Homo sapiens: one gene and its partner. The protein of the gene in region 2 interacts with the protein of the main gene of each other region in a pairwise test. Each region holds a gene or a part of one and is shown on either strand. Other genes may lie near its edges.

What was found.
Region 1: the proteins of PRTFDC1 (region 2) and MCMBP interact in binary tests that used the Homo sapiens proteins (3 or more experiments, as listed by UniProt).

What each region holds. Positions count from the first base shown.
Region 1 is NC_000010.11:119,829,071-119,845,374, forward strand, and holds the end of MCMBP (mini-chromosome maintenance complex-binding protein), read right to left. Parts: intron 14,357-16,304; coding exon 14,184-14,356; coding exon of another isoform or gene 14,178-14,183; intron 13,526-14,177; coding exon 13,402-13,525; intron 11,891-13,401; coding exon 11,773-11,890; intron 9,631-11,772; coding exon 9,465-9,630; intron 7,960-9,464; coding exon 7,826-7,959; intron 6,635-7,825; coding exon 6,470-6,634; intron 3,031-6,469; coding exon 2,942-3,030; intron 2,531-2,941; coding exon 2,404-2,530; 3' UTR 370-2,403; downstream 1-369. UniProt on the Homo sapiens protein: Associated component of the MCM complex that acts as a regulator of DNA replication.
Region 2 is NC_000010.11:24,943,563-24,959,783, forward strand, and holds the start of PRTFDC1 (phosphoribosyltransferase domain-containing protein 1), read right to left. Parts: upstream 9,045-16,221; 5' UTR 9,014-9,044; coding exon 8,966-9,013; intron 8,887-8,965; exon of another isoform or gene 8,802-8,886; intron 1-8,801. UniProt on the Homo sapiens protein: Has low, barely detectable phosphoribosyltransferase activity (in vitro). Binds GMP, IMP and alpha-D-5-phosphoribosyl 1-pyrophosphate (PRPP). Is not expected to contribute to purine metabolism or GMP salvage.

The DNA of each region.
Region 1 (16,304 bases), about 95 Mb from region 2:
TTATTAGTGCTATCTTTTTTTTTTACGTGTTAAATCTTGTGATTATTAAAATAAAGTACCATTGTAATTTAAAGTGACAAATGGGTATGAGAATTCCTTGCATAACAGATTAAAGAATTTGTAAACGGCAGATTTGCTATAACTGAACACTTGGTCTAGCTGTTGCCAGTATGTTACTCCTTTGAAATATACTCATGATGTAAAAAGGGAAATGGATCAGAAACTATACTTTAAATCCAAACATTCAAAACTGAATGCTTGCTTCTACCAACTTTTCTTCCGGGTCCTGAAAATATTAAGGGTTCCCAACATGGGAGAAAATACAACCCAACATTAGGTGATAAAATACACGTTTAAACTCTACAGAAATTAGTTCGAAAGAGATCTTTGAAAAATCATTTTAAGAAGGCAAAGTTCCAAACAGGGTTACACAGGAGTCTACTCAGTTTCCTGGCCATACAGGATTAACGCTGTGCCTTACGTTAGAGCAACAAACTTGACTGTCCGTGTATATATAGGTGAGGGACAAAGGGTTTCTGCAGCCAAGCACTGCACTCCATTCCGCTGCCTGGGCGGGCCTTGAGCAGGAAGGTCCCTCTTGCACCACCTCCTCCACTTCAGTTCAGCTCTCTCATGTCTTCCACCAAGAGGACATGGTCTTTTTCCACACAGATCACATGGGATGGTGAATCTTCTTACTCATGAAAAACAGCCCAAGGTACTGCTAATTTGGGACGTTTTATTTATTGGAAAGGTTCTTTCAAGGGAACTTTTCTGCAAGACCAAGCAATGTATGTATTTTTCTTTGGTAAATTACAATTTACATTGGCACAAAAAACACATGGTGACTAATGTACTTTGCTCTAGGACAATTAAAGAAAATGTATTTTATCCTCACAAATCCAGTGAAGCCTTCATTTTATTTCTAAAAGTTTAAGGAAGGTCTAGTCTACCAGTTATAAAAATGAAAACCAGTTCAACTCTAATATAAACATTATTTACATTTGTTTATAAAAATAGATTTGAGTTTAGGAAAAGTTGAACAACTAGTTATTTTTACTTCAGTTATTAGGTACAATGAATTCCTTGATTTTTCAAGGCTGACCCTGTTTCCTTGGTTAACAATTTCAATTTAGGCCTTATAGGAAAAAACGTAAGGGATCCTTTATCTGCCTCCAACTAGGTAAGTTATTTGATACCACTGACAGCTTAAAAAGTAATGTCCTAACCTTTCTGAAGATTCTGGTTGCCATAACCATGCTACTACAGTCTGTTGTTAGTTTGCTCTATTAAAACTAATTGGTCTGGAGAAAACCTACCTGCAGTTGTACGAGGCTGTTACTGGAGTAGCAGATGTTAGCTGATCTAACATACTTGGAACCAACTGATGATCCCATAAAAAATGCCAAAAATCCAATAGAATCAAAGCAACTCAATGACATTTAAGAAAATAAAAACTTTCTAAAGGGGGTATTGCTTTTTAAGTTTCCTATTTTGTTTTCATATTTGGGCACAGCTTTGTAGCACAGCATTCCCTTATGCATGGTTCTCAAATGCACTGGGATAGGAGAAAATAAAGACAATGTAGTGTCTTGGTTTCTTTTGCCCCCAAAAGCCACATTCATTCCGTTTAAAGGACTCCTCTTATTCAGAGATAGATTGTCCTTTCCTTTTATGAAAAAAATGGTGATAATACAGTGATTTATTCGGATTACTTGGCAAGGTAAATTGGCAACCTTATAGTACCCCAGATTTTTGGAAATATTACTACCGGTCCATAAAATACAAAAGTCTGGGAACCACTGCCATGTACAAGTTTAGTTTTGCAGGCTGTTAACAAATGTTAAGTGGGAAAAAGTTTCTGTGGCCAAACATCTGGGAAATGACAGTACAGAATTTCATGTAGTCATGTGAATCAATGGCAAGTACGCCTCCGTTCCCCAAAGATGGACTACTGAATGCACCCCAACCCACTGTGAACTGGAAAAACAGAGAACTAGAAAACATAAGAAATCCGAAGCACGATTCCTCTGACTTTGAAACTGCAACAACCTTCTTCATTTCAGCATTTCAACAGTCTGGCCTATGACTCAGCTGAAGCTAAGGAAATGGTACAATCAGCAACATTATCAATATTAAACTTTTAATATCAAATACTTTTTTTACATCATTACTAATTTATATAATTATTATAAAACAAACTTCAAAAGCTCCATGAAATCAGTAAGGTAAAAGTCCTTACTGAATATCATATAAACATCAGGTGTTACCAGGCTTGATTTCAGGAAATGTCACTGGTTTGTGATAGAAATTACCTATAAAACAATGTGGTATAAATGAATATCTGAATTTTACAATTATGTGGCTACAGTTTGCCCATTACTCTTCATAGGTATTACATCTTTAAAGTTCATTTCCATTCACACATTTTTGCTGCTGAAGCCTCGTTCTTCTTAAAGACTCTAGCTGCTTTGCTCTCAGCCATCGTTCTCTTGACAGCGTTGTCTGACCAGCACTGAGAGACAGACACCTGGTTTGAAACACAGAAACAAATTTAAGTCTAGAGCTGGGATAGTAAGTTTTAAATTTTTTTTAAGACCTAGGAATACTTTGTGAAAACACAGAGCACGTTAGGAGACAAGACCGTATGGTAGTTACACACAAGTCAACAGCCAAGTTAGGCTTCTAAAAAGAAATCGTTGAAGAGTCAGAATTGGAAAGTGGCTCACTCTTTGAAGCTTAGAGAACAAGCAGCATGCCTGTTCCACTGAAGAGATCACCAGCCAAACTCGATTCCCCCTCAATGAGCCCTTTCATACAGCGTTTTTAAAAGGAAAAGTTCATTTCCGTTTTTAGAATTCTGCCTCAGTTACTGCTGAATAACTCAGAAGACATATACACAAGCTTACCGAAACAGCAATAATGGACGTGCGCCACTTACCGAGCCACCACGAGCAGCTGGTGAAGATCATCAGCAGTGATGCTCTGAGGGTCGTTCTTCCGCATTTCCACAAAGTCATCTTCAACTGCCTTTATCAAAAGAGTAAATGTAAATGATGTGCATTTTTGTAAGGAAAAGAAAATTAACATGGTTCCTTGACTGATGTAGTAAGGTGCATGTCAGCCTCTTAGACAAAGGAGGCAATATGGGTGAAAGTACCAAAGCATATACATACATAATGCTGCTGATGAAAATAAAATAATGAAACTCAGATTCATTTAAGGTCAAGCAAACATATAAATCAGCAACTGGCATAGGAAACAATGCTTTTCCACAAAGGAAGAGTGATGTTAGTGAAAATGGCAGAGAAGGGACCGCAGAAAACTGTCTCTACTGTTAACACTGATCAAAATCAGCTTTTTAAAAACTAGAAATAAAACCATACTTGCAGCAATCCAGAGAGCATTTATGCAAGAAAACCAGGTGATTATTGGTAAGAATGTTGAGCCTGGCAGCATTTTAACATGTCCTACTCCTAAATTCCAACCCCTTCCCCTCCAGGCGATAATTAGTAGCTTCAAAAATCAACAGCCTGGCAGCCACCGGAGAGAGAACAGGGCTAGGGCTCCTTCCAAGTGCCATTCCCGGAGAACTGTCATCTGACCACCTGTCTGGTGGCTCCCTGGAAGGACCCATTTGCAAGGTTGTCTTTATTTAACCTGACTGGAAGCCTGTCTACTATGAACCACCTCTTTCCCCAGGGCATTTATCAAAAACAATCGGAAGAAATTACCAATCACCTTAGCTACCTGAGACACTGGGTAACAGCTGCGGCAGACAGACTAACCCAAACCCTTCAATGGAAAAGCTAGCTGGGAAATGACATGTCTGTAGAGGGCTCTGAAAACCTTAAGTATGTAACTCCTAGGAACTCAGAAGGCTGCAGACATGCTCAGAGACCATAGCTCCCACCTCTGCATGACCTGGAGGCTCTGTGCGAGCAGGAAATGAAGGCTAAGGCTTGTAAATTGCATGGCTAAGTGTTGAACTGAGGGCTTGCCCCAACTTTTATTTTTATTTATGATTATTATTCACCCGTAGACTGGGAGACTACTACCCAGCATTTAAGGAAATTTCTTTCCAATCATTAACCACAAAACTAACAGAGCAGAGACTTCAGTGCCCACATGTGACAAAGATACAGACTTTATAGAATTAGTCAAAAAAGTTACTAAACAACCTACCAACAGTAACAAACAGCAACAACAATAAACCCTAGGGAGGTTTAATTTCCAGAGTAACTTCCAAAGCAGAGTTGCCATATTATATAATTTAAAATGTCTGGTTGTGGCTAGATGTGGTGGCTTACACCTGTAATCCCAACACATTGGGAGGCCAAGGTGGGAGGACTACTTGAAGCCAGGAGTTGACCAGCCTAGGCAATAAAGCAAGACCTCATCACTACAAAAAAAAAAAGAAAGAAAAAAAAAGAAAAGAAAAAACAAAAAAACAAAACTTTAGTTGGGCATGGTGGTGCACACCTATGGTCCCAGCTACTGAGGCAAGAGGATCACTTGAGCCCAGCAGTTTAAGGCTGCAGTGAGCTGTGGCTGTGCTACTTACTATTCCAGCCTGGGTGATACAGTGAGACCCCACTGACCAAATAAAATGTCTGGTTTTCAACAAAAAAGTACAAAGAAACCAGAAGGTATGGCTCACACTTTGGGGATAAGGGAGTCAGTAGAAAACTGTCCCAGAGGAAACTCAAACATTAGACAAAAAGACTCTAAATTGGCTATTTTAAACATTCAAAGAAATAAAGGAAACCACATAAAAAGAACTTCAGGAAAATATGAGAATCACCAAATAGAGAGTATCAATAAAAAGAGAGAAATAATTTTTTAGAAGAAGGAAATAAAAATTCTGGAGTTGAAAAATATAGTAAAAATTCTCTAGAGGTGCTCAGATTTGATCAGGCAGAAGAAAATCACTAAATTTGAAGATAAGTTCACTGAGATTAGTCTAAGAAACAGAACAAAAAAAGAAGAATGAGGGAAAATGAACAGAGCCTTGAAGACCTGTGGGATACCATTAAATGCAACATCAGATACACAGTGGTAGTGTCAGAAGGAGAGCAGAGAGAAATGAGGCAGAAAGAAACATGGCCAAAACCTTCCCAAACTTGTTGAAAACTTCCCCAAAATATGAATTATTCTGCACCTCCAAGAAGCTCAACAAACTCCATGTAGGATAAACTCAGAGATCCACACATAGACACATCATAATCGAAACTGTCAAAAGCCACAAAATCTTGAAAGCAGTGACAGAAAAATGACTCAGTGTGTACAAAGGATCCTTATCAGAAACTAGTTGGCTTCTCAGTAGAAACCAGAGGCCAGAAAGTGGTGGGAGGACATATTCGAAATGATGAGACAAAGACTATAAACCAAGAATTCTACATCCAGCAAAACTAGCCTTAAGGAGAAATTAAGACATTCCCAGATAAACAAAAACTTAAAAGAGGGCTGGGCGAGGTAGCTCACACCTCTAATTCCAGAATTTCGGGAGGCTAAGGAGAGAGGATCACTTGAACCCAGGAGTTCGAGACTAGCCTGGGCAACATAAAGAGATCCCCTATCTGCACACACACAAACACACACACACACCCAAACAAAACAAAAAAACCCAAAAAACAAAGAATTAGCTGGGCACAGTGGCACATGCCTGTGGTCCCAACTACTCAGGAGGCTGAAGTGGGAGGATCGCTTGAACCTGGGGGGGTTGAGGCTGCAGTGAGCCATGATCACAACACTGCACTCTAGCCTGGATGACACAGCGAGACCCTGTCTCAAAAAAAAAAAAAAAAAAAAAAAAGAATTTGCACAAGTAGACCTGCCATGCAAGAAACACTAAAGACAGTTCTTCAGGCTGAAATGAAAAGATACTAGACAGTAACATGAACCCACATGAGGAAATAAAGGGTGCTGGTAAAAGTGATTGCATAGGCAAATAGAAAAAATAGTACAGAAGTCTTTTCCATTTCTAACTTTTTTCTCTAAAAGACAACTGCAAAAGCAGTAATTCTAAATGTGTTGATGGACATACAATGTACTGAGAGGTAATTGTATGACAGGAGCACAAGGGAGAGGAGAAGGAACGGAATTATAAAGGGGCAAAGTCTTTGTATAATATAATTAAAATGGCATTAGCCACACAAATTTTTTTTAAATTAAAAATAACTAAACAAACTGGCATTAATCCCTAATAGATGATTATACTAACATGTTAAGTTTATCCCCCAAAGACAACTACTAAGAAAATAACTTTAAGAAACTTCAAGGGATTAAAATGGGACACTGGAAAATACCTATTTCAAACAAAAAGACAATAATGGAGTAACAGAGGAATAAAAAAAGACATGACAGAAAACAAATAACAAAATTACCTTATCAGTAATTATGGTAAATGTAAATTGGTTGCATACTGCAATTCAACACAGGGAAATCCTTTATTTTAACCTAGACATACCTTGGTTATTTCATCAGATATGCTATATTCCAAGAATCTCAAAAGAGTTAGATAAATGCGGAATTTGTTCAGCACGGAAGGCAGCACCGCTGAGAGAAGGCTGTTCATGTACTCCTCCATGTTTGGTGGAATTAGCTGGGGCTGTAAGTGAATCTGGCAGTCTGCCTGAAAAGAGAAGGAGTACACTGTATTTTCTGAGTTCCTAAATTAATCTACATTTTTAAAGAAAGATGCATCATCTCTGTCAGCCCCTATGGGAATTAGAAAATACCACTTATTATTTAGGGGGAGGGAATAATGTTTTTTTTTCTGTGTGTGAGACAGGGTTTTGTCCTGTCACCCAGGCTGGAGTGCAGTGGTGTGATTGCAGCTCACTGCAACCTGCTTCCCAGGCTCAAGTGATCCTCCCACCTCAGCCTCCTCAGTAGTGGGACCACAGGTGCACGCCACCATGCCTGACTAATTTTGGATTTTTTGTAGAGACAAGTTTCGTCATGTTGTCCAGGCTGGCCTCAAAGTTCTGGGCTCACGCAATCCACCTGCCTTGGCCTCCCAAAGTGCTAGGATTACAGGCGTGAGCCACCGCAGCCAGTGAGCATCTATTTTTAATATTAATTTACATGCTTTATAACTACCTCAGAAATAATTATGAAAGCTTTTTCTTGGTTACTTATGTTTCCTCAATGGTATCAGTAAGCACACAAAAATGTAGCCAACCTCTAAAAAGCAGCTAATTAAAAAGGTCTATCAATACTTGCACACAGAAAACATATCCTTGAGCCATTTCATTCTTAGTCAAAGGCGGTTTCTCATCAATCGCAGGTGAATACTATTATTCAGAGACTACACACCATTTGACAACTGGGAGCATTTCCCATCATCCACAGAATTAAAAGCTCTCTTTACCAGCCACTCTGAAGACATACCAGAGCATTTCACCACAAAGCATGAAAATAACTACCAAGTGACCAAGGACATTTTAAAAGAACTCTGAAATATTTTTCACATAAGATTAGCAGAAAACAATGGGTCAAAGGTAGCAAGAACAGAAGTCTGGATGTTAAAATCAGGCAATCTCGCTATGCTCAGATGTGGGTGTTTCTGCTGCCAACAGCCTTGCTGGTCTCATGACTTGCTGATACCTGAGCTTGGTAGATGTAAGGTTTTCATCCATGGCAGTGCAAAATACTCAATTCCCTTAATGATCAGCAGTCACAGTTTTTTTTTTTTTTTTTTTTTTTTTTTTTTTTTTTTTACAACAAATGTAACTTATTAATAAGCGGTACCAAGAAACAGCAAAAATGTAGGTATTTTTCCAATGTCAACCTCCCTCCATTTAAAAATGACTCATCATACCGGGAGGAGTGACCTCCCCTCCGAAGTAATGAAAACGTTAATATTGCAGGGGAATTCCATCTGATGGTAGCTGAAGTCATAATCCACCTTCTGCCACGTTATGAGGTTGCTCAGGGCTGTCACATTATGAACACCTACAAAGGCAGGAAAACACTTTCAGTCATTTGACTTTAATCATCTAAACACATCAGTTTTGCTGACACCGATGATGAGCCATGAAGTTTCTACCACTTTTAATAAAGGGTATGAGGCGCTGTCCAGTTTACTAAGCTAAACGTCACTAAGTGTGTAGGCTTACAACAGTCTTGGTCAAGGTAGAACTTTCTGGGGGCAGGCGATACCCCCGCAAATCTAATACCTAGCATCTGGTATGCACCTAGACATAAAATAGTTCCCAAGTATGATTATTTCTAAGTGGTGTATTTACAGGGCTAAACCAAGGAAACACTAAAACTACCGTCATACATAGATCAGCCTAGTGAATTTTACAGATTTTATATTCCCCTTTGCCTTAAACATGCCCAGTCTACCTCATTTTTTCTTCTACCTTTACCTCTTGAGCTGATCGCCAGCAGTGTATTCTTAATTGTCTTCATTTGAGCACTGGTAAACAATCTGCTTTCTTGTGATTTTATAATATATTCCGCAACTGAGGTTAGTGCAAACCATTTGATCTATTATTTCTCAGACATTCTCTGAAAACCATTTACAAACTTTACAACGGGAGGTTAAAACATAATTAGCCAGGCGTGATGGCGGGTGCCTGTAGTCCCAGCTACTCGGGAGGCTGAGGCAGGAGAATGGTGTGAACCCGGGAGTTGGAGGTTGCAGTGAGCCAAGATTGGCCACTGCACTCCAGCCTGGGCGACAGAGCAAGACTCCGTCTCAAAACAAAAAAAAAATTATATTAGATCTTTTCTACACTTCCCTTTTGAGGTATTAGATGACTAAAGGCAAAGCTTCCTCCCATTTCAGCTTTTTAAAAAGCTATTTGGGGCAGGTGCAGTGGCTCACACCTGTAATCCCAGCACTGTGGGAGGCCAAGGCAGGAGGATCACTTGAGCCCAGGAATTCAAGATCAGCTGGGCAACATAGCGAGACCCTGTCTCTACCATTCCTTACACTCACTGAAAAAAAAATTTTAGGTTATATACAACTACGCAAAAGAACCCAACACTGTAGGCCCATAAAGACTGCTCCAACCATTCGCTGACACAATAAAACTTTTCACCAAAGAACCCTTACGACCCTCAACATCTAATACTACCCTTTATATTACTGCTCCATTATACTAATACTACCCTTTATATTATTGCTCCATTATATAATATATAAAATATATAATATATGATATATATTAAATGAGACATTATATATTATATATGATATATATTATATAAGATATATTATATAAGATATATATCTGTTCCATTGTACTACTTTCAGAATACTATGGCAAAACATAGTTGGTGTATATAATTAGTTTATAACATATGCTTTAATCAAATTCATATGCCAAGCCTTTATCTTACGTTGTTAAATGTGAATTTGTCCATAGATACTCTTCTAAAAGTTATTCCTAGATCTGGCTTTAGTGCGAAGGAAGTCAGAAATGGAAGAGAAACATCTATGTACGTACCTGGGGTATCCAGCTGCCCCTGTTCCAGGAGAGTCTCATCGATTACAAGGGAAGTATTGCTGGGCAGCTGGAGGAGCCCACTGACCAAGCGATTGGCTGTGTAGTCTTTGTGGGGAATGAATTTCAAATGGTTCATGTTCTCTATAGTCATCTGCAGACGAAAAGACTGCAAAGAGAAATTTTTTAGTGAACAAGAATTTAAGTTTCCCTGTTTTAAGAAAATATGTACTTGGAATTAAACATTGTGTTTCATATGGAAAAAGTGATCTTATAAATTTCTAAGGGAGTAGTGATATGGTTTCTTGAACTCCAGAAGCAAAAATAGTATCTAGATCTTACATTTGAATTTCATCCATTTTATGAGCTACTTTATTCTCAAATGTCTTGTTCAATATTCTTGAAAATCAATTTTAATTTAACCAATGAAACAAATGGTAGATAACTGACATATAAATATTAAATACCCCAAAACCTAACCTCTTTCACCTAACACAAGCTAGCTAGCAAAAAGAAAATGTTAATTTTACTCTTCAAGACAGGGAGAGAAAAGCTTAATTTTCCTCTATATTCTTTGAGTTAAAATTGTATTCATTTATCATAGACATTTTTGAACAAACTTTTCAGAGAAAAATCAAGGAGCAGAGCACACTGAGCTGTGGATGGACCTGCAGCTCTCAGGAGGTGCCTCCAGGACGCGAGCACCTTCTCACTCAGTGTTTAACGAGTAAGCGAACCATCTATGCTCCTCCTCCAGCTCTTGAGCCACCATTCCCAACACCCTCTGTGCTCTGCCTTATACACCAATCCATTCTTCCATCCCTCCAGCCTCAAACAATGTGGCAGGGATGGAGAAGAGGGTATGGTGGGGGAAGGCTGTCAAGGAAGAGGTAAGATATATTGCGAAAATTTAGAGGAGTTTTGTGTATTACCTCAGTGATTCTAAGAAAACGGGGAGCTTAGGGGTGCTTAAATGACCTACCATGTATTAATTTATTTGTTGGTCTTCTACCTAAACTCTGTGAGGGCAAAGGATCTGTTTCAATAATTCTCAAAATGTGGTCCCGAGAACCCCCAGGGAATTGCTTAAACCCTTTTACAGGGTCAATCAGGTCAAAATCATGCATGGATAAAAGATCCTTTCAATGTGCGAGACTAATGAATTTTACCATAGCAGACTATGGAAAGTTTACGAATAGGATTTCAGATTCCACACTTAACTATCTTTAAGAAAATCTCATGTGGACAGTTTTGGTCTAGTATCAAAGACCACCACCCAGTTATCTGCAAAGGCTATCGAAACCATCCTTCCTTTACCATCTACTTTTCCATCTGTGTGAGGCCAGCTTTCCTTCATATACTTCAACCAAAACCTGAGACTACAATAGACTGAAGGCAGAAGCAGATACAAGCATCCATTGTCTCCTATTAATCCAGACATTGAAGAGATTTGCAAGAATGTAAAACAATGTCACCTTTATCACTAATCATTTTTGGCTTGGGAAAAGTTGTTTTTATAAAAATATTTATATGTAATTTTTTATTTTTAATAGGTGTATTTACTTTATCTTCTAGTTTGGTAAATTAATGATAAATATAATCATAACGTGAAAAACAGCTCTTTGAGTATGAACACATTTTTCAGAGTGTAAAGTGAGTCTAAGGAGACTGAGAACTGCTGGTATATTCCAGTCCACTTCTGCTTCTTGAGGGCCTGGACGAGTGTTAGCACTGAGACACTGAATACATTCGGTTCAATAAAGATCTAGTGCACCCTCTTCAATTTCCAAAGAAGTGATCAGTATTTTCAGTCACACAACTAATCAGAAGCAATTCCCCTGTTCCCAAGATCCTACCACCACGCAAATACTGCATTCCAGATACCCTGGCAAATAAAGTGAGCTCAACTTTCCAAACAGGAATTAAAATTGAGGCAATGGAGATAAAGAACTTTATTACCTCAACTAAAAGAATTATGCTCCTACAATTTAGAGTTTATTTAGATTTAAGACTTTAGTGTACAAAAAGGATACCAAATTGGACAAATTGGTATCAAGAGAGTGTAATTTTAAGGGAGTTACTACAATTGTTTTGTTAGACTTACAGAAATTTGTGCTTAGGCAAAAAGACAAAAAAAAGTGAAATGTTTAGGGGAACGTACATTTTAAATTATGTAATTTGGCAGGCTTTGTTTCCCCTTAAATAAGATCTATTAAAATCTCTAAGTTAAATATTTGAAGTGAATGAAAGACAGTTAGATGGATTTTTTAAGTGTGCTTAGGTTTATAATACATATTTATATTCATCTTACTGCTGGAACAAGATGTTGAATAATTCGATACAAGTGTTCTGTGAAGGTACTATTCCGTGGGCAACCACTCAAGTTAACTGTAAATTTTCCTAGTGGAAGGACATCTCTTCTTGTATATCTAGAAAAGAAAGAAATCAATCAATAAGATGCTGAAGTGACTTCCTGATTTCTATCAAATAGCGAAGAATAGAAAAATTAGCTTAATATTGTCATTAAAAATAAACCAGAATATTCTGACCAGTTATTTTATCAGAATAACAGCAATAAAAGTAATAGCCAATATTTGTACGTAAGTGCTGCTGGTCACGTGCCAAAGACCGTTCTGAGTATGTAAATGCTTCCTCATTTAACCCCTAACCATTCAGCGGTAGGTGCTGTTGTCTTTGCTTCACAGATGAGAAATCCGAGGCACAGAGATGATAATAAGCAACATGTTCATCTAAATGGAAGCTGACAGAGCTGGGATATGAATCCGGGTAGTTTGGTTCCAGAGCCTGTGCTCTCAACCATTATGTACTACTGTCACAGACTGATTTGAGAAAAGATAAGATTTACAGCACAAAGATGTTTCCTGCAACTTTATAATAGAGAAAAGCTAGGAAAAGCTAACATTTAGGGAAATGGTTACAGTATGGTACAACTGCATAGTGAAATACTTTGCAGCCACTACAAAGTTCATGAAGCATTATGATGGGAAAATGTTTAATATATATCAACTGCTGAAAACAAGACACGCATCTGTGCTTAGAGTGTAACTAAGACCTATGCAAGGATGTATACATATGTAAACAAAAACCAATGAACATGTACCTAAAGGTTAACGGAGGTTCTAAGTGGTGAAATTACAGATGATGTGCATTTTCCTCCTTATGTTCTTGGAACTTGTCAAAGGCCCACACTAGTTTTAAAATGAGAAACAAAGAAATACAGTGGAGTCAAGGGATGCGGTGCTAGTGTCAATGTCCACGTTAAACGTGCACATGACGTGGGCGCCTTGGGATGTATAAACAGAGCGTTCAGAATGCAAAAGGGATAAAACAGCTCATTTTACTCATCAGCCAGGTCCTTTATCTCAGGGGTCCCCAACGCCCAGGCCGTGGACCAGTACTGGTTCATGGCCTGTTAGGAACCGGGCCACAACATAGGAGGTGAGGGGTGGATGAGTGGGCATTACCGCCTGAGTTCCGCCTCCTGTCAGATCAGCAGTGGCATCAGACTCTCACAGGAGCGCGAACCCTATTGTGAACTGCACATCTGTGTGTTCCCTATGAGAATCTAACTAATGCCTGATGTTCTGAGGTGGAACGGTTTCATACTGAAACCATCCCCACTCCGGTCCATGGAAAAATGGTCTTCCATGAAATGGGTCCTTGGTGCCTAAAAGGTTGGGGACCACTGCTTTATCTGATTTTGGCTCTAAAATTTAAGGGGACATAATCAAAATGCTAAATGTGAACTGTGAGAAAAGGAATTTGTCTGTGATTTGGTATAACAGTTAACACTGGACAGATAAAAACCATGTGATGAAGCCCAATAAGGAAAACACACAAATGACACCAGCAATCTTCCCGCTCTTCCACTTCCACACACACCAAACTCCCCTAATTCCCACCAGGATACAGCACTTACACTGTGGAGATGAGATGTAATATAAGGTATTCAGCAGCCAAACTATCCCCCAGAAGGGCATGAGTAAGGAACCCAAGAAGTTCTGCTCTGACTGGAGACAATTCGGACATGAAACTTGAAACAACTGAAGGAGAAAGGAAGACCTGAGTCAGGACACACACTCCAGTTCCTCTCAAGTGTCTTAGGTAAAAAAATAACTACGTGAGCAAAGCACAATTCAGTCGACAGTAGGTAAAGCTTAACATATCCGTCAGTAAGTGATGCTAATCTTAAAAATAAGGCAGTTTGCATCCTCCTTTTTTTTTTTTTTGAGACCAAGTTTTGCTCTTTTTGCCTAGCCTGGAGTGCAATGGTGCCATCTCAGCTCACCGCAACCTCTGCCTCCAGTTCTCCTGCCTCAGCCTCCCGAGTAGCTGGGATTACAGGCACACGCCACCACACCTGGCTAATTTTGTATTTTTAGTAGAGCCAGGGTTTCACTATATTGGCCAGGCTAGTCTCGAACTCCTGACCTCAGGTGATCCACCCACCTTGGCCTCCTAAAGTGCTAAGATTACAGGCGTGAGCCACTGCACCCAGCCTTGTATACTCTTTTGTCCTCATTTCAGTGAAGAGAATTAATGTAAGAGAAAAATGGGGCAACGAGAGAGAGATTACTGAAAACACTTATTGTGAGGAATGAAGACCTGACTCTCAATTCCACTATGAGCACGTTACAGGCAGCTCTGGACACACTGAGGCTAACAGTCGATAGTTGACTAGGCTGTAACACTTACACTTACAGGTTTTGCTCTCCTCTTTGTTAAGGCAGGCAGGCAATAATGGGTTGATGTGTTGCAACTTCTGGGCTAAGATCACATGAATTCTCGGCACTAATGAAGCAGGAGGACTGTGTACTCTCTGCTCCTCTGCTGTGTCTGTGCACTCCATCGGATCCAGCAGTGCAGAGGCATCCCTGTGGAGAGGTGATAAAGTTTCAATTTAGAGAGACATCAATTGCACAGATGCAAAAATAATGTGCATCTTGGAAAACAAAATTAGAGTTAAAGCCAAGAATATTTCCACCTGTACATCTCCTTAAAGAACAGAAAGTGGCCTCTCATTCTAAAGTGTTACATCACACAGACTTCAGGCTTGTTAAGACATATCATGAAATAATGCATTTATTCAATTTTTCAAGAACGGTATTTTTATTTTTATTTTTTTTTTGGATGGAGTCTCACTGTGTTGCCCAGGCTGGAGTGCAGTGATGCGATCTTGGCTCATTGCAACCTCTGCCTCCTGGGTTCAAGCGATTCTCATGCCTCAGCCTCCTGAGTAGCTGAGATTACAGGTGCACACCACCATGCCTGGCTAATTTTTGTATTTTTAGTAGAGACAGGGTTTCACTATGTTGGCCAGGCTGGTCTCGAACTCCTGACCTCAAGTGATCTGCCTGCCTTGGCCTCTCAAAGTGCTGGGATTACAGGCGTGAGCCACCATGCCTGGCCAGAAACAATAATATTTGTTATTCAGCACTTCAATAAATGGAATGTAGGATGTCACTCATAAGGCTATTTCAAAACACAGGTACTCCTTGAACTATTGGCCGGGACATCGAATACTTGACAGCAGATCTCAAAAACTGGGGTCTTTTTCTCAAAAGCCATCTGGTATCTATTATTCAGCGTGTGGAGAATCCATTCATCTCTTATCTTGCTAATTGTTTTTCCTAAATTTAATTCTTACATGATCCCTCGAAGACTGAGTAGACAAGCAATGAAAGTATGAATTTTTCAGACTTGCTAAATAAATCTGCAGATGATAGATTTGTGAGACGACCAAAACAAATAGCTAATCTTTTAGATCTTGACTTTATAGAATCTATAGACACTGAAGTAATAAATTCATACTCCTGTATTTTTTAATACAAGCATAATAACCTTTTCCATAGTACGTACCATGTGACAGACAACGTTCAATGCCTTACACGTACAAATTCACCAAAACCTCACATCTACCCTTATTTACAATGAGGAAACCAAGCCCAAGGTGACATAGCTAGTAAGTGGCCAAGTCAGGACTCCAACCCAGGCTGCCTGCCTGTCTGTGCTCTTAACCTCTGTGATGGTTAATACTTTGTCAATCTGACTGGATTGAAGGATGAAAATTATTGTTCCTGGATGTGTCTGTGAGGGTGTTGCCAAAGGAGATTAACATTTGAGTCAGCGGGCTGGGAGAGGCAGACCCACCCTCAGTCTGGGTGGGCAGCATCTAATCAGCTGCCAGCATAAAGGCAGGCATGTAAAGAGCAGACTGGCTGAGTCTTCCGCCTCCACCTTTCTCTCATGCTGGATGCTTCCTGCCCTCAAACATCAGACTCCAAGTTCTTCAGCTTTTGGACTCTTGGACCTACACCAGTGGTTCACCAGGAGCTCTTAGGCCTTCAGCCACGGACTGAAGCCTACACTGGTGGCTTCCCTACTTTTGAGATTTTGGGACTCAGGCTGGCTTCCTTGCTCCCCAGCCTATTGTGGGATTTTACCTTGTGATCATGTGAGTCATTCTCCTAATAAACTCCCCTTCATATATTCATCTATCCTATCAGTTCTGACCCTTTAGAGACCCCTAATACAACCTCTAAACTAAACTACATCAATAGTGAAGTAACTAAAGCAGGAAAGTCATCACAATCAGAAATTGCCAAGATGAACAATCTCATATACTATTATTAAGGGACGGTTAAGCTTATTTAAAGTTGTTTAAAATTTTTGTTTTGTACCATTTTTTTTTAACTGTGAAAAATGTTAAGTTCATCCTACACAGAAACTAAGATGATTAATGTCCGGTATTCAACAAGAGGACTCTGGTGTAGATGAGGGACATCAGCCCTTGCTTTTGGCAATCTCAAAACAAAACAAAAA
Region 2 (16,221 bases):
CTCTCTGAGACAGGGTCCCGCACTGTCACCCAGTCTGGAGTGCAGTGGTGCGATCTCTGCTCACTGCAACCCTGCCTCCCAGGTTCAACTGATTGTCCAGCCTCAGTCCCCTGAGTAGCTGGGACCACAGGTGTGTGCCACCATGCCCAGCTAATTTTTATGTGTTTTTTGTAGAGATGGGGTTTTGCCACGTTGCCCAGGCTGGTCTTGAGCTCATGGACTCAAGCCATCCGCCTGCCTTAGCCTCCCAAAGTGCTGGGATTACACGCATTAGCCAGCACAACTGGCCTCAGTTTCCCATTCTTTACTCACTCCTGCACACTTTGACTCCTCTGTCCAGCTTTGAGCTTCTGAGGCCTTTCACAATGCAGACCCACCCTAATTTTCCAGCACAACTCCCTACACCTTTGCTTCCTGCCTTCAGAATGGTTTGCAGTCAAGTCAGGATCCTTCCCAGCTCTGGGTTTCATTCATTCATTTGCCGTGCACCCCTTCATCCTCTCTCCCCCTTTCCTCCTCTACCTCTGTATTCCGAACTCAGAAGCCCAGGTCACACCCCACTTCTTCCTGGAGGCCTTGCTGACTGCCCCCGGCCTCTGATCTTCTTTCCCAAATTCCTGGTGCCCCTTGTAGCTCTCTGTCTTACCCAAGGCTCCCATGCAGGATCCTTGAGAAGGCTCCTGTCCCTTGGAATTGTCACTGACTCCTTTCTTTCATCGCCCTCAGGCAACACAGCAGAAAACTATCTTCAACTCCCTCGAAATTTATCCAGGACTACCTCTCGGCACCTCCACTGCTATTCCCCCACCCCCAGGCCAGTCCATTGCCACCATGATTTCTCCCAGGACTGTCCCAGGAGCCACTACACTTGCCTCCCTGCTTCCACTTTGCAGCCCCTCCACATGGAAGCGGGCATGCTCCTTTAAAAATGCACATCACAGCCAGGTACAGTGGCTCATGCCTGTAATCCCAGCACTTGAGAGGCTGAGGCGGGAAGACCTCTTGAGGCGAGGAGTTAGAGATCAGCCTGAGCAACACAGCAAGATCCTGTTTCTGCAAAAAATTAAAAAATTAGCCAGGCAAGGTGGTGTCTGCCTGTAGTCCGAGCTACTCAGTAGGCCAAGGTAGGAGGATCACTTGAGCCCGGGAGTTCGAGGCTGCAGTGAGCTATGACTGTGCCACTGCACTTCGGCCTGGGTGACAGAGCAAGACCTTGTCTCTCGAAAAATAAAAATAAAAAACAAAGGACATCCTATCATGGCAGCCTTCTGCTTAGATTTTTTTCAAGGGCTTATCACTTTACTCCAAGTAAAGACCAGAGTCCTCACTGTGGCTCACCAGGGATTACCTTGTCTGACTCATTCCTGGCACTCTTCCTCTTCCCTCTGCTTCAGCAGCTGCTCTCTTTCAAGTCCTCCGATCTGCCAATCACACCCCTGCCTCCTGAGCTTTGCACTGGCGCCTCCTCTTGCCTGCAACACTCTTCCTCCAGATTTCCACATGGCTGTCCTCTACTTCTTTCAAGTCTCCATTCAATGTCACCTCTGCAAAGACGCCTTCCCTGACCTTCATAGCCTGTTTTACCACTGGATGATGTGTGTGTGCATGGGTGTGTTCTGTCAGAACATGAGCTCCTTCTGGCGGAGACTTTTTCTGATTCATTGTTGAATCCCTCAGTGCCCAGAATGCTGATCTGGAATATGGTATAGTGCTCAAAAATGTTAAATGAATGAATGGATGACACAGTCTCCATCTTCCGGCTACCTGAAAACCTGAACTCCAACCTGAATTCTCAGTTTGTCTCCTTGTGATAAAGAGCACCACTGTTCAAGGTTCTGGAGATTCCAATGTGTCATATCCATTGGCTGACTGATGGCCACATGGTGTATATCATCTATGTTATTTTTTAAGAGACAGAATCTCCCTCTGTTGCCTAGGCTTGAGTGGAGTACCACAATCATAGCTCACTGCAGCCTCGAACTTTTAGGCTCAAGCGATCCTCCCACCTCAGCCTCCCAAGTAGCTGGAGATAAGGAGTGGACAACCACGCTCAGCTTATTTTCTTAATTTCTTTTGTAGAGACGAGGTCTGGCTATGTTGCCCAGGCTGGTCTCAAACTCCTGGCCTGAAGGGATCCTCCCACCTTGGCCTCCCAAAACACTGGGATTATAAGTGTGAGCCATCATGCCTGGTCAATCTGCATATTTGATTTGAAAAGTGTCTCGTTTGCTCTCCCTCTACCATCAAACTGGCCGGTGGGACTGCTGGATTTGCACCAAGCTCCTCTGGCTGCCACCCTGAGAACTCCTTGTACCTGCTATAACCTCTAACACTACAGCAGCTGGCCAGAGTCTAGACTACCAGCTGTACATGAGGAGATTCTAGGAGAGCCTCTGGCAGGCCACAGTAAAGACCAGACCAGGAGAACCCTGACTGGCCCCAGGCCCCAGGGGGATCATCCAGGTGTACAGCACTTTCTGGATCACCTTCCAGACCACATGTACTATCTACCCCACTTTCTGGAGCTCCTCCACCAGTGGCACCATTAACTAGTGGTCTTCTGAATCCATTCCTCCAACCACATCAATCCTTTACTGCCCCCGTTCTGGTTGAATCTTGGAGCATACTCTCCACTCCATGTTCAAGAGTTTGGCTCTGACACTTACTACTGTGATGTTAGGGAGATGACTTACTGTCTCTGAGATCCAGTTTCCCCTTGCTTTAAATAAGACACAGTAAAACCTATGGATAGGGTTATTATAAGGATAATGTACTTAGAATACCTGGAACACTGCATGGTGTATAATACATGATGTTTGACGCATAATGCCAAAAAAAGGAAACAGACTAAAAGTGCCAAAAATGAATGCCAAAAATAGGAAAAAAATGATAAGAAAATCACAAATGAAACAAACCTATAAACTGTAATATGGATCCATAGCCCAGAGGCCACACAGAGTAGTGTGTTAAGAGCATGGACATGGAAATCTCACACACCTGGGACAAGCCTGCCAGCCATGAGACCTTGGGCATATTAAATTCTCTTAGTGTATTCATCTATGAAATGGAGTTAGTGCCTGCCTCATATGGCTATGGTGAGCATTAAATAAGATAATGAATGTAAGACTCATATCAGTTTCTGGTCTACAGTACTTATGCAATAAATGCTAATCATTTAGATGAACTGAAACATCAATCATTTAACAACAAATTATATGTTTTAATTCATCTAAAGAAGTGCCTCAAACCTATATGCCAGTGTTATTATCTTAGTTAAAACTATACATTTGAGGCCTGGCACATTGGCTCATGCCTGTAATCCCAACACTTTGGGAGGCTGAAGTGGGAGGATCACTTGAGCCCAAGAGTGTGAGACCAGCCTGGGTAATATAATGAGAACCCATCTCTACAAAAAATAAAAAAAAAAATTGTTCTGGTGTGATGGCGTGTGCCTGTAGTTTCAGCTACTTGGGAAGCTGAGGCAGGAGGATGGCTTGAGTCTAGGAGGTCAAGGCTGTAGTAAGCCATGATCGCATCACTGCCCTCCAGCCTGGGTAGCAAAGTGAGATTGTCTCAAGAAAACAAAACAAAAAGTATAAAAGTAGAAGAAATATATTTCTCTAAAACTGTTCTATAATCCAAATTGGCCATTATTTTCAATTAATCTTAAATAGTGAGTTTTCATTGTTGAGATGAAAGTCGATTCAAGACGATGGAAATACTGGTTTATGCTTTGCTAACTTCAATGGTGCATGCAAATCGTGTTGTAAATAAATCAAAACCTGCAGGAATGGAGGTTGCTATGAACTGTAGATAACTGTTATTCACTTGCTTTTTAAAAAATCAAAACCAGAGTCTGTAGATAGTTTCAGTATCACAGATAATATGCTCTAAGTGTATTCAGTACAATGCTTTCTCTGTTCAAAACAGCAAAACATAGCCAAGCTGGGGGAAGTGACAAACCCATTAAGTGAGTCATTTTATGCAACATCCAAATCCCAGAAGTAATTCTGATTCTCTTTTTCGCACTGAAGATGCACTGAAAACTTTGTAAGTCATTAAAAATAATTTTTTTTGTGCTTAGACTATTTTTTGCATCATTTTTCTCCCTAAGGGAGAAAACACATACAAGAAGCTAATCTCTGCTCCTCTCCCCTGCTGAGCTCCACAGATTGGCCCTGTTCTCTCCTTCAGGCCATAGCTCTCATCTGTCCTCCACCAGCAAGAGAAAGGGGGTCTCATCCCTTCACTCTAATTCAAAGAATCCCAGACAGGAATTCTGGGATTCCTGTCCTAGCCCTAGAGCCAGGGAAGGAGGTACCCTGGGAAGGGCCCCACCTCACAACCATACATCTTGAAAAGTGGGGACAAGTGGTTTGCTAAAAGATTCCCAGGTTCTGCTCACAGAGGAATGAAGGAAGCTCGACAGGCCAACCACCTCCTATCCACATGCCTTCCTCTTCTGTGGTGGGTTTGCCCCACAGAAGGAAAACTCATTACCACCTAGTAGAGCTGTGCTTTCGATGGATTACTTATCTCTGATATTACCTGATTACTTATCTCTGATACTGCCGTATTTTCATGGGGGGTGACAGGAAGCCAGCCATAACAGAAACACAACAATCATTTCTGATTTCTCTCTTCTCCTGATTCCTACCAAACTCACTTAGGTAAGTACTAATAATAGCTCAGTTGATAATCATTTGGCAAAACCAAACCAGACAAAAACAAACAAACAAAAACATGTCTAATAACCCGATCCCCAAAAGCCAGGTGGATAGAGAAGATCTTTATCTCTCCCTGAGAAGTAACAAAGAGGTATCAACCAGGAATCTGGTGACTGTATTAGCTCCAGATCAAGTGACAAGCCAACTCTGAGCAAAATTTCTGACCTTAGGATCTACCTCTCTTATGTGGCAATTAGCATTTGCTACCATTTATTGTTAATGGTATAAATGTCCTACCTCCCCAGTTCAACCAAAAGCCAATTTATAGGCAAGAGCCATCTTAAATCTCTTAATATTCCCTTCTCTTGCACAAACTTTACTTCTCGTTTTATATTTATATCATCTGACTCTACATCCCTTGCCATCTTTATCAACAGATTTCTACCAACTCGGAATTTTCTTCTCTACCTCATTCCTGGACAATTCCTTGGCTGATTTACTCCAATGCCTACCTCAACGATCTTTCCAACGACTTCATCTTGTAGCTCCTTCACCAGCCTTAGCTCAAACTACATTCTTAACTCAAATCACATCTTTATTCCCCATTTAGCAATACATTCACATAGCCAGACCAGTCCTACAGATGGCCCCAACCCTGAAATTCCATCCTGGAATCACAGCTTGCTATGTAGTATAGTGATTGAAAGCTGGTTCAAATCCCGCTTCTGCCATTTGCTACTTATGCGACCTGGGTGATTTACTTAATCTCTCAGTGCCTCAGTTTCCTCTTCTGTAAAATGGGGAGCACACTAGACCTCCCTTACAGATTTGTGCTCAAGAAATGCTTGCTATTATTACCTGCCCTCTGCCCCTTTTTTCAGATGGGGTCTCACTCTGACACCCAGGCTGGAATGCAGTGGCACGATCATGGCTCACTGCAGCCTTGACTTCCTGGGCTCAGGTGCTTCTCCCACCTCAGCCTCCCCGGTAGCTGGGACTACAGGCATGCACCACCATGCCTGGCTAAGTTTTGTATTTTTTGTAGAGAGAGGGTTGGCTGCCCAGGCTGGTCTCGAACTCCTGGGCTCAAGTGATTTGCTCTCTCAGCCTCCCAAAGTGCTGGGATTACAGGTGTGAGCCACCACTCCCAGCCACCTGCCCCTTTTTAAAACTGGTACTAATTTGATTTTTTGTATCCCATCCTTGAGAGCTTTCTATTCTCCCAGTAAACTCATCCTCTCCAGCTCTCCCTTCCCTCCTGCCTTACATGCCATGAGCTGCCTTCTACCAGCAGCTTCGATTCGCTCTGAAGTTGCCTGCTTATATCCAACTTGAGGTTAATCTAATTATTCCAAGTTCTACTGGAGAAAAGGATGTAAATGTAGGGACTATCTCCATTATATGTGGATTATTTCCCACCTTTGTGGGCTCTCATGCAAGCACCAAGCCCCTTGGCAGCTGGTCCAGTTTATACTCATTTTTTTTGTTTATTTATTTATTTATTTATTTATTTTTTTTTTTTTTTTTAAGAAGGAGTTTCACTCTTGTTGCCTGGAGTGCAATGGTGCAATCTTGGATTGCTGCAACCTCCACCTTCCGGATTCAAGCAATTCTCCTGCTTCTGCCTCCCAAGTAGCTGTGATTACAGGCATGCACTACCATGCCAAGCTAATTTTGTATTTTTAGTAGCAGCAAGGTTTTACGATGTTGGTCAGGATTCTATTGAACTCCTGACCTCAGGAGATCCACCCACCTCGGCCTCCCAAAGTGGTGGGATTACAGGTATGAGCCACCTCACCTGGCCCTCTACTCTCTTGATACCCCTCTCACTACCTCTTTGCATCTTTCAAAAAATTACCTTGCTTCCAAGAGGACCTCTGTTGACACCAATAGACTGGGCTATTTACAGTGTTCTCTCACTTGTTTTTTAGACTTCAACAATTTACCTACTCTATCCGTGCATCTAGATTCACCTTATTCTTTTCTAAAAGTATGTAGTATGTTACGGTAGTACAAGTTGAGTACCCCTTATCCAAAATGCTTGGGATCAGATGCGTTTCCAATTTCAGATTTTTTTTCCTTTGGATTTTGGAATATTTGCATTATACTTCCTGGTTGAGCATCCCTAATCTGAAAATCCGAAATCCAAAATGCTCCAGTAAGCATCTCCTTTCAGCATCATGTTGGTGCTCAGAAAGTTTCAGATTTTGGAGCATTTCGGATTTTGGATTTTTGGATTAGGGATGCTCAACTTGTACTATATTTTAACCATTCTACCAATGCAGTGGTTGTTTAAAAGATTCTCCCTACTAATGGCTTTGTAATTGTTAAATACAGTGGCTGTTTTCCATCTTGGTATCCGACTTGCTGTCCCTGTAACATCTGACACTTCTGATGACCTCTTGACCCCGCCCCTCCTGCTCAACAATGCTCTATTCCCAAGGCACCCACCATGCTGCCTGCCCTCCCACCCTTCAAAGTTCTTTCTCGGTTCCTTCAACCAGCTTCTCCCCCACAGGCAGCCTCTTATATTTGGGACTTTCCAGGCTTCCATCCTTAACAGTTGCTTTAATTGTTTTTTCCATATTCACTGAGCACTCCCGAACATTACATATTATTCTTTTTGCTGATGACTTCCAAATCTCTCCAATCACTCTCCAGAATTCCAAATGTGAATTTCAAATTGCCTACAGTGCAGGCCAACCTGTGGGCCTTACAGGCACTACAAACTCAATTTGTCCAGAATGAACTTAATGATTGCCCTTTTTGCGTTTTAGTCCCCCTCCCATCCATCACACCGCTAGGCTTGCCCCTCCTCCTGGGGCAACTGGAATGGTTTTTGTAAAAGCATAAATCGGATACAATGATTCTTTTGCATTTGGTATGCGGGTCTCTGCCTGCAGTCCACATGGCTACTCCTGTGTACCCTTCAGATCTTGGCTCAAAGGTCACCGCAGAGAGGCTGCCCTGACCACCTGAGCAAAAGCATCACTCCCCCCTTCTCCTCCAATTACCCTCTATCCTGTTACCCTCCTCCTATTGCACATATCTCTATTTGAAATTTTCTCTATTTGTTTACACACTGCTTGCCTATGTCTTCTCTAGAACGCAAGCTCATGAAGACAAGGCCTTTGTCTTTTGCACCCCAGAGCCTACAGCACCTCCTACAACCCAGCAGGACAATAAACGTGTGGAATGAATAAATCAACTCCTCATCCTTTCAGAAGGAAAGGTCCTGCTGTTAAATTAAGCACTGAGCCCCACATTTCAACCTGACCCTTCTGTCTGAATGTGACACGTTTCCCTCCCCAGCCCACTTACTTTAGTTCAGGCCATTCATATTCATAAACAGATTATCTGTGAATGACAAGCTGATCCCTGGAAAGAGATGGCAAGTTAGCCCCACCCACCATCCTCACCACCATTGAGTTTCACACTGAACCTGACACAAGTTATAACCACCACCTTCTAGGAAAACCACTTCTCAGGGAGCAGGGAGGACGTGGCCACAAGGTCAAGAACGGGTTGGATCCTAGCACACTGAGAGATGGGTACCCTCTGGCTGACACCGTCAGGATTCTCAGGGTTAATGAGGCTCAGTTCTGGGAAACCAGCACCCCACACCCTCCCATCCGGACACACTGCTAGATATTTTACATGCATCCTCCCAATTGGCTCCAGAGCCCAGCTTGCTGTTGCTCCCTTTTACAGACAAGCCATAGGTCACTCAGGAGCCGCCAGCGTGTCCTAGAGCTCCTGCAGAGGCCTCCACTGCCAGAGAGCCCCCAACCTGGGTACCAAAGGCTTCAAATCTCAAGCTCTGTCCACTTGAGCTACTTTATTTCCTAGCTGCCTTCAAAACCCCTCAGTGTGCTTTTTAAAAACAAAACTTGAAGCCCGCCCTGGAGGAGTCAAGAGGAGACCCAGGAAGAAGGAGGCCTCCAGAGCAGCACGCGGGGGTCTCTGGGGCCCTGCCGGGCTCGCAGAAGCGACTCCCCGTGGCTCGCGGGGATGGGGACGGCTGGGCGCCGGCGGGACGCTGCAGGAGCGAGCTACCGGCCGGAGGACACGGGGGGACGCTGGGAACTCGGGGTGAAGGGACGGGACTCAGAGTTTCGTCAGATTGGGGGCGGGGAGAGGAGGCCCGGGTCCGAGGATGGAAGCGATCCCCGCCGGGAGGGAGAACAAAGCGGTGGCCCTCTCTCTCCCCCGACGCACGGCAAGCATTTAATCTACAAGCAGGGTGCCAGGGAGGGAGGGGAGCGGGCCGAGCCCCAAAATAGGGAGTTTGCATTTACCACGACGCCTCGCCCGTAGTCTGGCGCCTCCTCGCTGCTCCCGGCCATGTTTCTCCCGGGGAACGCGGGAAGGGAAGACGGCGCGGGAAGGAGCAGGGAGGGCGAAGGCTGCGTGGGGGATGGGACGTGGGGATGGGGACGGGGACGGGGACGGGGACGGGGACGGGGACGGGTCCGCCCCGCCCCGGGCCCGCCGGCGGGAAGCAGCGGCCTGACGCGGATCCATGGCCCCGGCGCTGCGCCCCCTCCCCTGGCTAGGCCGCGGGGGCGCGGGGAGCAGCTGCCAAGCCGCTACCGCTCCCCCTGAGCGCGGGCCCCGGACGCGTCCCTTGCGGCCGCCGCTGTCGCCGCCGCCCCCTGCCGGATGGTCGCGTGCAGCCCCCGGCCCCGCCGCCAAGCCCCGCGGGGACTCTGGAGCAGGAAGCCCGCGGCAGGAAGAGAACGTGTCCCCCAGGCCCCTGATTCCCAGATCCACCGTCCCAGCCCTCGGGCTAACAATCTCCTTGACTCCTCCCTGCCAGATTTCATGCACGCGATTGTCCCAAGCAGAAGCGTGAAAGAGCCTGTGAGCCAGCGTGCTCTTGGAGGATGGGAAGTGTCCTGGATGTGTTTTCAAACCTTGGAGCCGCCACCCACCTCTCTCCACCTCCGCTCATCTCCCTCCACCTCCCCTCACCTCCCTCCACCTCCCCTCACCTCCCTCCATCTTCCTCCACCTTTCTCCACCTTCCCCCACCTCCCTCATCCCAGGGCCTGGAGCTGGAAAGATTACACCCGATTGCTTTTAGGGTGGCCCGGATCTGCAGTGATCAGATCTGGGCTTTGAGGATCCAGCCTTTCGGCCTTTCGTCAACTGCATTCAGGGGAGGAGGGGGAGAGATTTTTACACATTCTCTGCTTTACCAGTTTTGCAAGAACATCTGGTCAGATTGTAATTGTTCCAGGTTGCAGCTTTACTAAAGCAATCGCTCTTTTCTGATTAGAAATCCTTCTTGTATGAGTCTGTTGTTCATTTCAACCCCTCTCACATGCCTATGCTCCGGTTCTTTGTCCACTCCTGTAGGTTCCTGCTTTTTCTGGGTGTGTCTTCATTCCCCAGGTCCCTGACATCTCACCAGCGTCTTCATTCACTCAGCCCAATTCGGGTCGAAGCCCTGAATCCAAGAGAACTTAACACAGTTTTCCTGATGCAGGCGTCTTTTGTTCATCTTCGAATTCTGGCACACAGAGGGGAGAGGAATGCTGATTTTGCCTAGTTTAAAGGGGAAATAGTTATCAATCGGTTAATGACGTTCTAGGTTGGAAAAATATTAGTCATTCAGACTTGGCGCCCTGGTCCTGCTCAGCAGGGCTGGCTCTTCATGTCGTTTCTAAGCGCCAGCGCCTTGGAGGGTGCAGCTCCAGAGATCCCTGAAATCAGGCATCTGCTTGGCAACTGCCTTACAGAAATGGGGGGTGTTGTTTCTCAGCACACGGGTAAACATTTTCTCCTAGTAATTGTGAGAGGGCGTTGTTTTGAGCCATTTTTGTAGTCTGCATCTCACTTCTTTTCCCCAAAGTCAAGCACCATCTTTTATTTTCATTTTCAAAGACCAGGCCCAGGAACCATATTCACAAGCAACATCATTAAAATTTCCAGGAGCAGAAAAGTGCTATCATTAGGATGATGATCAAACTTTAGAGTTCACAAGACTCTCCTGGGGAGCTGGTTAATGCAGCTTCACTGGGTGGGGAAGATCTGTGGAAGCACCTAGAATCCTGTACCTGCTGAGAGACACCAGATGGGTGTGATGTGGGTGGCTCATGACCCATGCTTTAGGGGATTCCACTAGACCATCTTACTGCTTGGATATCAAAACTTAGCCATGAGGCTCAGTGTGGGTGCAGGGCCAGATTGGGGGGTACCAGGAACTTCAAAATATGTCACAGGAGTAGTTGCCATACAGAAGTCAAAAAGCATCAACTTTGGTTCCAGCCTAGACACTGCGGAAGATGTAAGGGAAATGGTAGATAAATCTTCTTCCCTTAGAAAGGCTATTAGTTTAAACGTAAAATCCAACAAGTTCACAGTGAAAAATGTAACTTGCTTGAAAGACAACAGGAATCTTATGAATGTGTGCTCAAGAACATCCTACATAGACTTATATAGGTCATCCTATAAAGGGCACAGAATGATGAGTAAATAGTTTTTAAAAATCTAATTCATTTTATTATCTTTGTATATTTTGATAATACTTTGTGCGGTCTGATTACACTTCGATACTTTGGAGAGCATTAACATAATACAAAATAATACTTGATAACCCAAATAGTATTTGCAAAGACCGGTATCCAGAAATAACAGCTCATCTGTCCAAGGCTTTATTCTTAATCTTGCATTATGAGGATTTAGAGGCAAAAATTCTTTTTAAACCTCAAATTTCTGTTACATGTTGTATTAGTCTGTTCTCATATTGGTATAAAGAACTACCTTAGACCTGGATAATTTATGAAGAAAAGAGGTTTAATTGACTCACAGTTCTGCAGGCTGTACAGAAAGCAAGGCTGGGAGGCCTCAGGAAATTTACAATCATGGCAGAAGGCAAAGGGGAAGCAAGCACGTCTTACCATGGCAGAGCAGGAGAGAGAGAGAGCAAGGGTGTAGTGCCACATACTTTTAAACCATCAGATCTTGTGAGAACTCACTCACTATAACGAGAACAATATGGGAGAAATCCACCCCCATGAGCCAATCACCTCCCACCAGATCCCTCCCCCAACACTGGGAATTACAATTCAACATGAGATTTGGGTGGGGACACAGAGCCAAACCATATCACATGTCTAGTGGAATAGCTTTGGACTAGGACCTCTATTTTTCTGTAACAATCCATGTTACTTTAGCCAATGAGTCTAAGCCAATTATATCAGTGTAATATACATCAATTTTCTCATCCATAAAATGGAGCCACCCATTTATTCTCTACTGCATATGATGATGAGATGAATGTGAGATAACATGCAAGAGAATTCTTTGCAAAATGCTATAAAACTGTAAGATATTATTAACCTGACATGCTGTAAAAATGTATGACCAAATGTTTGTAAAATTATTCCATGTGAAAATGACAAGGAATTGTCTTTTAAGGTTGATGGGGCTAGGCACCATGGCTCACACCTGTAATACCAGCACTTCGGGAGGCCAAAGCAGGAGGCTCACTTGAGGCCAGGAATTCAAGACCAAACCTGGGTAACATTGTAAGACCACATCACTATAAAAAATTAAAAACTTAGCCAGGTGTGGTAGCGTGGCACCTGTAGACCTAGCTACTGGGGAGGCTGAGCTGGAAAGATTGCTTGAGGCCAGAAGTTTGAGGCTGCATTGAGTCATAATTGCACCACTGCACTCCAGCCTGGGTGACAGAGCAAGACCCTGTCCCTACAAACAAATAATAATAATAATAATAAAAGATTGACGTAAGGTGACCAATCAGGGATAGTTATAGTCCAGGGATAGTCTAGAGCTGGTATGAGAATGAATACAGAAAAATGATAAAATTATTAAAATAATGAGATTTTTCATAAAAAGGGATATTTTAGCTCAGACTGTCCATTTCCTTTTCTTTTTTTTTCCTTTCCAACTTTTATTTGAGGTTTGGGGGTACACACGCAGGTTTGTTTGGGAAAATTGCATGTCGCAGGGGTTAGGTGTACAGATTATTTCATCACCCAGGTAATAACCATAGCACCTGATACATAGTTTTTTGATCCTTACCCTCCTCCCGCCCTCCACCCTCAAGTAGGCCCTGGTCAGACTGTCCATTTTCTAATATACCTTTGAAAGAGCTATAAGAATAAAGATGTGCATCTTTGCAAAGTTAATAACCAGTCAATATACTTGTATTTTTCTATCATTCTCTTTATTACATTTTAGCAGTAGTTTCTCTGCATTTTATTTATTTTTTTTTTTTGGTGTTTATATTGTGTTTACTTACTTTTTTTTTTAGTTTTATTTTTAACTGACACATAATAGTTATACATATTATCTATGGGGTACAGTGTGATATTCCACTACATGTATACATTGCATAATGATCAACTCAGGGTAATTAGCATACTCATCATCTCAAGCATTTTTCTTTTCTTTGTGGTGAGAACATTCAAAATTGTCTCTTCTAGCTGATTTGAAATATACAACACATTATTGTTAAATATATCATTCTGCTGTGCCATACAGCAGGTGTCCCCAACTACCGGGCTGCAAACTGGTACCAGCCTGTGGCCTGTTAGGAACTGAGCTGCACTGTAGGAGGTGAGTGTCAGCGAGCATTCCCACCTGAGCTCTGCCCCTGTCAGATCAGCAGCCGCATTCGATTCTCACAGGAGCACAAACCCTATGGTGAACCGCACATGGGAGGGATCTAGGTTGCATGCTCCTTCTGTGAACCTAACTAATGCCGGATGATCTGAGATGGAACAGTTTCATCCTGAAACCATCCCCCCTCAAAATCCGTGGAAAAATTGTCTTGCACAAAACAGGTCTTTGGTGCCAAAAAGGTTGAGACTACTGCGTTAGTGTACCAGAACTTATTCCTCTCATCTAACTATAACCTAGTACCTACTAACCAACTTCTCCTACTCCTGCCACTCCTCCCCACCTTTCACCTGACTCTGCTAACCAGTATTCTAGTCTCTACTTCTATGTGATCAACTTTTTAAAATTCCACATATAAGTGAGATCATGTCGTATTTGCCTTTTGTTTCTGGCTTTTCTTGCTTAACATAATGTCCTCCAGGTTCATCCATGTTGTTGCAAATGACAGGATTTCATTCTTTTTGTTGAGGTCTTATCCAAAAAATCCTTGCCTGGACCAATGTCATGAAGTGTTTCCACTATGTTTTTTTTCTAGCAGTTTCATCATCTCAGGTTTTACATGGCAGTCTTTATTTTGAGTTGATGTTTGTTTGTTTGTTTGTTTGTTTGTTTGTTTTGAGACGGAGTCTTGCTCTGTTGCCCAGGCTGGAGTGCAGTGGTTTTATCTCGGCTCACTGCAACCTCCGCATCTCAGATTCAGGTGATTGTCCTGCCTCAGCCTCCCAAGTAGCTGGGATTACAGGCGCCCACCACCACGCCCGGCTAATTTTTGTGCTTTTAGTAGAGATGGGGTTTCACCACATTGGCCAGGCTGGTCTCAAACTCCTGACCTCAAGTGATCTGCCTGCCTCGGCCTGCCAAAGTTCTGGGATTACAGGCATGAGCCACTGCATCCGGCCTTGAGTTGATTTTTGTATATGGTGAGAAAGAGGGGTCTAGTTTCATTCTTCCACATGTGGATATTCAGTTTTCCCATCACCGTGATTCTCTGCATTTTAAATTCTGTAATCATCCTGTGCCACTACCATGGTGAAAACACAAATATTTATAATTCACTGAATTCTCTGCCAGCCTGGAGGCTTTTGTCCTGGAAGTATATACTAATTTTTTTTTGACATTTTGGTAATTGACTTTTGTCAATACAAATCTGTAATTGAAGGAACAGTTCAGTCTATCCACTGAATTGTTCCTAGCCCGTCACTCAGTGACACTAGATTGGAAATACAGAAAGGCATTTAATTCTTTCTGCACTAGACTGGAAATACAGAAAGGCAGTTAATTCTTTCTGAGTCTTGAAACATGAAAGTAAATTAAAAAAAAAAACCTTTCAGTCTGGGAATTGTGTTGAAATCCATAAACATCTGAAACTTAGTGACTCAGATTGTTAGTCACAGAGTCACTGGTTAGAATCTGGATGAAATCCACTGTGGACAAAGGCCAGTAATAATGATGATGATATTTTGCTTTTCCATAGTGCCGAACAAAACTCTTTACAAATGTTACAAGTACAAAAGAAAGAGTAGCAAGACATTTTTTCTGCAAGTGCTCAGGCTAAGTAAGACTCTTGCTAACTTTGAAGTAGTTTATTTTTCCCTCTACATAAATACAAAAGAAATGTAGTGGCAAATAATTGCAACAAAACCCAACTTAAGCAAAGGCCTCATTAGTATTCAATTAGCATAGTAACCCGTCTTTCCCGGTCTCTTGTTTGAAGCAGACTGGATCCAATGTGTAGTCTTGGAGTAAAGAAAATAATATCTCCAGAGTAGGTCTTACAAATAAAGCCAAGGCTACACTCAATTGTGTTTTGTATTATTACACTTTCGTTAGTAATTCACCTTCCACTGAAGAACACACAGAGGGTAGATCTAAGTTTGTTCTCTTGCAATAATGTCAGACCTGAGGAATATCAGCAGTAAGCGCTGGGCAGTTTCAGAGATATCCTCCCACTATCTCCCCTTCTGACCGGAACAGGAATTGGATAGCTTCAGAGCAAAAGAATAATGTGTCCATGTGTTCCTCCAGATCTCTGAGTCCTGGCAGTCGACCTCAACTCTCTTGGCCACCATAAAGCAGTCATTGAAAGGACACAGCTGCAGGAACTAGGGACTAAGCAGTAAATAAATCCACAGGGCTGGAGGCAGAAGTTACGTACATGACCCTAAAACAATACTCTGTGGTTATGAACAAACTGATTAGCATCTGAGGGTCCTGTAGCAGCTTATGCAAAATTAATTGGTGCCTCAGCCAGTGCTGAGTTTCTAAAGGAAAGATGTCCACTTCAAAAACAAAAACAAAAAAAGGGGGGCCTCCTTAGTCAGCAGCAACTTTGCCTGGTGTCCTGGGGAGACGATCAGCTAGAATGGGAATGGAGCTGTTTATTCTCTTAGCTGTACATGGATTCTCTTCAGATCAGAGCTGATGTATAACAGCCACTGGCAATATCCCAAGACATGATCCAGTGATTGCCAGGTTATGGGTTGCATCTTAGAGTTAAGGTGAGAGGAGCTTGGGAAAGAGGTTGAGAGATGTGGCTTGAGAGTGGGAGAGATGGAGAAAGTAAAAGAAATTGGACACTGATCTACATAGAGCAACACTTCCCTAATTGTGAGTTTGATCCACTTTATATTTGAAGAAAATGGCGTTTTGATTCATTAGGTTTGAGAAACAATTAAGTAAGCAAAGTTAAGCCAACTTCTATGTTGTAGGTCTTCTAGGAGTCTTTAGTACGCCAATATGCACTGCCAATATTCAGGAAGACTGTTGCAAAATGCAATGTAATGCAACGTTTCCCAAACTTTTTTTTTTTGTCTATGCAAACCTTTCTGGAAGGTGTTTTATAAGTGTTTTAAAAATATTGCAGTATTATGAAATGTTTAAATTTATGCTTTTAATGTTTTCT